Linked DNA regions of Homo sapiens. The protein of the gene in region 2 interacts with the protein of the main gene of each other region in a pairwise test. Each region holds a gene or a part of one and is shown on either strand. Other genes may lie near its edges. The genes, in order: RCN3 and MKNK1.

Evidence for each region.
Region 1: the proteins of MKNK1 (region 2) and RCN3 interact in a two-hybrid assay, tested with the Homo sapiens proteins (one large-scale study listed by BioGRID and IntAct).

Annotation. Positions count from the first base shown.
Region 1 is NC_000019.10:49,541,068-49,544,451, reverse strand, and holds the end of RCN3 (reticulocalbin-3 precursor), read right to left. Parts: intron 1,900-3,384; coding exon 1,700-1,899; intron 1,347-1,699; coding exon 1,239-1,346; 3' UTR 819-1,238; downstream 1-818. UniProt on the Homo sapiens protein: Probable molecular chaperone assisting protein biosynthesis and transport in the endoplasmic reticulum.
Region 2 is NC_000001.11:46,597,530-46,601,347, forward strand, and holds part of MKNK1 (MAP kinase-interacting serine/threonine-protein kinase 1), read right to left. Parts: intron 1-3,818. UniProt on the Homo sapiens protein: May play a role in the response to environmental stress and cytokines. Appears to regulate translation by phosphorylating EIF4E, thus increasing the affinity of this protein for the 7-methylguanosine-containing mRNA cap.

The DNA.
Region 1 (3,384 bases), on a different chromosome or scaffold from region 2:
CTCATTCCCTTCCAGCCACTCTAGCCTCCTTGCTGATGCTGCCACACCAGGCCCACTCCTGCCTCAGGGCCATTTTACTTGCTCTTCTCTCTCCCTGGAATGCTCTCCCTCCAGATCTCTCCGTGGCTCCCTCCTTCACTCCATTTACCATTGAGACCTTTCCCAGCCTCTCAGTCATCAGAACATTGCCACACTGCTACACGCTTCCCCTGCTTCACAGCATCTGTTGCGCCGTGCCATATTTTAGGTCGCTGTGTCTCTTCCTTACAGAACTGGAGCTCTGAGAGGGCAGGGCTTCCTGTCTGGTTTGTGCGCTGCAGAGTCCAGGCTTTTTTTCCCTTTTTTTTTTGAGACAGAGTCTCCCTCTGTCACCCAGGCTGGAGTGCAGTGGCGCCATTTCGGCTCACGACAACCTCCACCTCCCGGGTTCAAGCGATTCTGCTTCAGCCTCCAGAGTAGCTGGGATTATAGGTGCCCATCACCAGGCCTGGTTAATTTTTGTATTTCTAGTAGAGACGGGGTTTCACCATGTTGGCCAGGCTGGTCTAGGACCCCCGACCTCGTGATCTACCCGCCTCAGCCTCCCAAATTGCTGGGCTTACAGGCGTGAGCCACCGGGCCTGGCCCAATTTTTTTTGTTTGTTTGTTTTATACTGAGGAACGCCCTCCAATCCCTCCAACACCCAGCACCCCTCCTTCAAATGCCTGGTCCCCTATTGCATGTCTCAGCCCCCAACTCCCAGTCACAGCCCCCAAACCATCTCCAGGGCCCCCTTACCCTTCATAGAGACAGGCAGACAACAGACAGACACACAAGGTCCCGGCGCTGGCTTTTATTGCCTCCTGGCAGAGAGGAGGTGTCCCAGGCCAGGCCAGGCAGGAGAGGGCTGGGGCCAGGGGAGTTTCAGTCTATGTGGTGGAGGCTCAGATTTGGAGCTGGAGGGGTTGGGGCGGTTCTTAGAGCTGAGCTTGGGGCCAAGGGTCCCTGGGTCTGGGCTGGGAGACTCAGTCAGAAATAGGTATTGCTTATCCTCTGGGACTATGACAGCCCCTCCCTGGGGTTGGGGGTGTGACAGGGACAGAAGCCGACCCAGGGGGTCCCTGAGAGCCCAGGGGCAGGAGGATGCCTGGGACTGCATCTGCCTCCTGCGGGGCCTGGACAGGGAGGGGGCCAGACCACAGCGGCCCCTCCTCCGGTCATTGTGCGGGCCTCTGAGGCTGTGGCAGGTGCGCGGTGCTCACAGCTCATCGTGGTGCCGGGTCAGGTCCTCGCCATAGTTGGTGGCCTGACTGCCCACAAACATGTTCCAATTACCCAGGATTTCCGCTTTGCTCAGCCGCCCATCCTGGAGGGAGGGTCAGGGTTCAGAGGGGACAACACGGCCCTGCTTTCAAAAGCCCTCCCTGCATCCAAGCGTGTCCCGAAGTCTCTGGGACCCTTGTTCTCTGGGCCTCTGTCCCTTTCTCTCTGAATCTGTCCCCGTCTTGGTCCCTGTCCTTCTCTCTTTGGGTCTCTGGGTCTCTGTCCCCCTCTCTTTCTGGGGCTCCGTGCCCTCTCTTTTCCTCCCTCTCTCTGTCCCTCTTTTTTTATCCCACCTAAAAGGGACCCTGAGCTCCAGGCCCAGGTCTTGCTCCTTTCTGGAGTCTGGCCCGCAATGCCCACCCGCTCCTCGCTCCTGCCGAGGCCCCGTCACTGCACCTTGTCCGTGTCGCTCTCGTGCAGCAGGTGGTTGGCTTCCACCAGGGGCTGGTCCTGGGCAGGGGGCAGCACCCAGTGGCCCACCTCACTCCCATCCAGGTGCCCATCCTTGTTCAGATCCCGGAAGTCCCGGAACTGCTGCCTCTCCGTCTGCACCCACGCCGGCTCCTCCTCCCCAGGCTCGGCTGAGTACAGATCCGCTGGGGGCCGGGACAGAGGGGACAAGGTCAGGGGCAGCTCTGGGGGTCTAGTGGAGCTGGGGGCTGATCCTGGCTCTGATACTTCCTGAACCAGGCCCTTGAGCAACTCACTACCCTCTCTCTCGCCTCAGCGTCCTCTTCTGTTTCGATGGAATTAGTAACAAAACCTGACTTATAAGCAATCATTTGTGTTACAGGTGAAATTCATTTGATTGGTTGATTGCATGATTGATTGATTTCATTGACACACACGTGAAGTAGTGTGTGCAATGGGCAAGGCAGTGCCTGGCACATAGTAAGCAATGTCTATGCAGGAGGAACGTGCGAGGATGTTTCTGGCCAGTTAGCAGGTGACAGAGATGCCAGGTGCAGTGATGACTGTAATCCAACACTTTGGGAGACCCAGGCAGGAGGGTCATTTGAGGCCAAGATTCAAGACCAACCTGGGCAACATAGCAAGACCCTGTTTCTACAAATTTTTTTTTTTTTTTTTGAGATGGAGTCTCGCTGTGATTACCCCACTGCACTCCAGCCTGGGCAACAGGGCAAGACCCCACCCCCTTTTTTTTTTTAAGATGGAGTTTCGCTCTTGTTGCCCAGGCTGTAGTGCAATGGCGCAATCTCAGCTCACTGCAACCTCTGCCTCCCAGGTTCAAGCGATTCTCCTGCCTCAGCCTCCCAAGTAGCTGGGATTACAGGTGCGTGCCACCACACCCAGCTAATTTTTATATTTTTAGTAGAGGCGGGGTTTCACCATCTTGGCCAGGCTGCTCTCAAACTCCTGACCCCATGATCCACCTGCCTCAGTCTCCCAAAGTGCTGGGATTACAGGCTGGAGTGCAGTGACACAATCTCAGCTCACTGCAACCTGCACCTTCTGGGTTCAAGTGATTCTCCTGCCTCAGCCTCCCAAGTAGCTGGGATTACAGGTACCCGCCACCACGCCCAGCTAATTTTTCTAGTTTTAGTAGAGACAGGGTTTCATCATGTTGGCCAGGCTGGTCTTGAACTCTTGACCTCAAGTGATCCACCCACCTTGGCCTCCTAAAGTGCTGGGAATACAGGCGTGAGCCATGGCACCCACCCCAATTTTATACATTTTGATATGTTACTGGTTGGGGAGGAGTTAAGAAATAGGTGCCAGAGCCCAAACACCAAGGTTCAAATCCTAGCCCTGCCTCTTCCCATTGTCTTCAGCAGATCCCTTCAACCCCCCTGGGCCTCAGGTGTCATCTATATAATGGAGGATAGTGACAGTGTCTGCCTGGTAGAGCTGAGGAATGGAAGATGAAGTCTTAATGGGATGAAGTAATTGAGAAGATAGGCTGGGTGCGGTGGTTCGCGCCTGTAATCCCAGCACTTTGGGAGGCCGAGGCAGGTGGATAACCTGAGGTCAAGAGTTCAAGACCAGCCTGACCAAAATGGTGAAACCCCGTCTCTACTAAAAATACAAAATTAGCCAGGCGTGGTAGTGCACGCCCATAA
Region 2 (3,818 bases):
CTTGTCCCAGACCAACCCTCTATGGGAGTCTTAACCTGCAGTCTCGTCAAAAGGGACTGTATTTCCACCTGATTGCTCTAACCAATTCCCAGCTTCCTACACTTGTGCATAATTAAATTACCTGTAACATTTTATTACGCATCTTCCCCTAGACTGTTAGCCAGGGACAGGGTAGAGACTATGTCTCCTTCATCTCTGGGACCCCTACACCTAGCAGAGGCTCTGGTATGGGGCAACCACTTCATAATTGTTAATGAATGGATGGAAACAGCTGAAGTTATTCTTCCCTTAAGCTGTTTTAGCTGGACTCTTATTAGAAGACCGAGTACAGTCTGGGTCACTGCCACAAAGCAGAAAAACCGAAGAGAAAGAAAAGAGGCATGACCAATGTGATCCAAGCAATGGAAAACAGGTTTTAAGAGTGAGGTTAAAGAGACCAAGGCTGTTTAGCCGGGAGAAGAGAAGATGAGGTTTAACTGGATTCTGGCTTTAAGTACAGAAAAGGTTCTCATGAGAAAATCTTGATCTCATCCTCCCTTTAAAATCAGAAGAAACTTTTCCATATTCATGGAAAATGGAACAAGAAGAAATGGCTTAAGTTAAGGCCTGAAGGGTTTAAGCTGGACAGAAAGAAGAACCAAATTAGGCACCACTTTTCCAGAGATACTGTTATTGTACTTTTGGCAAGTGAATTGGAGGAGTCTTGCTTGGCACTCTTGTTGAAGGCTGTGAAAAAAGTAATATATGTGCTGCTCTGTTCCTGTTTACTGTGGAGAGAGGTGAAAACACAAGTCAGGTAAGATTTTCTAACGAGCCACTGATTTTTATTGACCCATTTCCTACAGGCACTTTCTGCCATGTTATGCATTGCAACCATGTGCTGGAACAATCTAGTATCTCAAAGGTTCCTGACAGGGCAATGGAAAGAAAGAGAAGGTAACAATGCGGGGGAAGGGAAAATGGCCCTAATAAATATACTTTCTATAAAAACAGTACCAAACTGGGCATTCATATATTTATTAATATTATTACTATTAAAGCTCACATTCATTGAGCACCTACTGTGTGCCAGGCACTGTGCTGTTGTATCTCAATTCTCATAACAACCCCATGAGGTAAGTAATATTTGTATTCTCATTTTACAGATGAAGGAACAGAAACTCAGGAAGATTAAATAACTTGCCCAAGTCACACAGGTAGCAAGTGACAGAGCCAGGACTCAAACCCAGATAGCCTGACTCTAGAGTCCACATACCTAACTACTGTCTCTCTGTAAGGATGAGAGGCTGGAATATAAACTCTAGTCTCTCTGAATCCTGTTTATATTCTCAGTTCTTCCTCATACAGTCCCAAGCCAGGACATTAGCAAGAGTTGAGGCCTCAGAAGTGAACCAAAATACTCCTCTGATTATCAGCATCTATAAAATGGGGGCAATTACACCCACATCACAGAGTTGTCATGAGAATTAAGTGAGCTAATGTATATGGAGCTCATGGCATCAGTGCCTGGCATACAGTAGGCACCCAATAACTAGTAACTGTTATTCCCGCTTCTGATATGGCTTCCCCAGATCAGCTGTGGCTCTGGAAAGCAACCCAACGACTCTGTGAACCATAACTGGCTGCAGGAGGGAATAATCTGACAGCAAATACAAAGGAAAGAAACAGACTGAGGACTCTCAGATGATAATGAGCAGGTGCAGGACTTGAATGCCAGCCTCTGCACTCCAAGTTAGTGCTCTGTCCTACTTACAGACTCTTGTTGAATTTGAGGGTGAGAAAATGAAGAGACAGGATGTGCCAAACAGGCTGCCTCCCCCGACAGACCCTTTTGTAACGTCAATCTCCCATCAGAACCCATGCCTGAAATACCAGGGTCCTGCAGCTTCTGTAAACTGGTTCTAAGATTCTACTAGCTAAGGATGGCAATGCACTGATTTATGGCACTGTGGGTGCTGCCAAAATGATCACCTATTAAACCTATCAAGCAGACCTAGTCCATGCAGCTTCCAAACTAGGCCAGTGATTCACCGTTTAAGCCTCTTCACTGATGTCCCCATTCTGGGACCATCTTTGCTCCAGTCTAACCTCCGTCCTGCTGCCAGAGAAAACCGAGCGCCAGTCAGGGCATTTGGAGCCTCTAGCATAAGGAAGATAACATGGGCCTTTGAACTCAGCACTGCTAGTTTTGAACCAAGCTGTGCCCTTACTATCTATCTAACCTTGGGGAAGTCACTTTAATCTTTCTGAGGTCTGGTTTCCTCATCTTTAGATTGGAGATAAATAGGCCTATATTACAGGATTAAATATAGTATGTAAAGCAACCAGCATACTGCAAGCCACAAAGCAAAGGAGACACTTTATAAATGCTAGTGTTCTGCTCCCTACTCCACTCTCTACATTTTAGCCAAAATCTGCCAATTCGGCTTACTTCTTCTCCTCACCAACTCCTCTCCCCTCCCACAACACACACACACACACCCCTACACCTGAGCATTTCTGCCTCTCAACTGTTGCTCAAGCTGTTCCTTCTCCCAGGAATAAACTCCCTCCAAGGCCCAGCATAAATTCTCCACCTTCAGGAATCCTCTGGTCATGCTGGGATTGATTTCTCCTTCTTCCAAACTCCCACTTTGTTTACATTCCTTACTACATTTACCATAGTCAGTCTGATTTCAGTTATTTATGTACTTATCTATCTTCCCAACTACACTGGAGGGAGAAGGTTCTGAGAAGACAATTATTTATAGGAGGGCAGGAAATGTGTTGTTTTCCTCTGTGTATATTTCTCAATACCAGGGTCTTGTACATAGCAAGAGCTCAATATGTGCTTACCGAATTGAATCTTTCCATCCTATACTGGGAATCTTTACAGAAAGATCCCAGACTGAGTTCATTCTAAAACTGCATTTACTGCCTAACTTGATAAATAGGCAATTTTTGAAGTACATGAATATTCCTAAACTAAGATCCGCTAATACTCATGTGGGCTTGTTTCATTCCTTCATCCATTCTTCCAATACACTCTGGACTCTTCTTGGGATCTCTCTCCAGCATATAAGGAGACATTGCTGGGACAACACTTCTCACTCACGGAGATCTGGGAGCAAGCTCTTTGGAGAACTGTTCCACCCCACTGGGTAGGAGGTGACTGCCATTAAAACCACACTAAAACCCAGAGTTGTGGAATTGGAAAATAGATCTGAATGATCTGCCTTAGTTTCCAAGCTATAACACAGAGTTAAAAACACTTTTAAAAACAGTGTCTGGAACACAGCAAGTGTGCAATAAATGTTCGATGTTGTATTAACAACGTAGTAGACTGAAAAAACAGAGTCATGACATTTCACTTCTAGAACTATCTCCACTACTGACTGATTCCTTGTGTAATCTTTTTTTTTTTTTGAGACAGAGTCTCACTCTGTCGCCCAGGCTGGAGTGCAATGGCACAATTTCAGCTCACTGCAACCTCTGCCTTCTGGGTTCAAGCGATTCTCCTGCCTCAGCCTCCCAAATAGTTGGGATTACAGGCACCCACCACCATGCACAGCTAATTTTTGTATTTTTAGTAGAGATGGGGTTTCACCATGTTGGTCAGGCTGGTCTCGAACTTCTGACCTCAGGTGATCCACCTGCCTCGGCCTCCCAAAGTGCTGGGATTACAGGCGTGAGCCACACACCGGCCTCCTTGTGTAATCTCAATCAAGTCCTTTCCCCATCTATAAAATGAAAGTGGCGGAACCAGATGGTTGGTTTCCAAGCTCCTTCTACCTTCAACCATGTAAATTTTTCTCTGATCAAGAAATAACTTTCTCTTC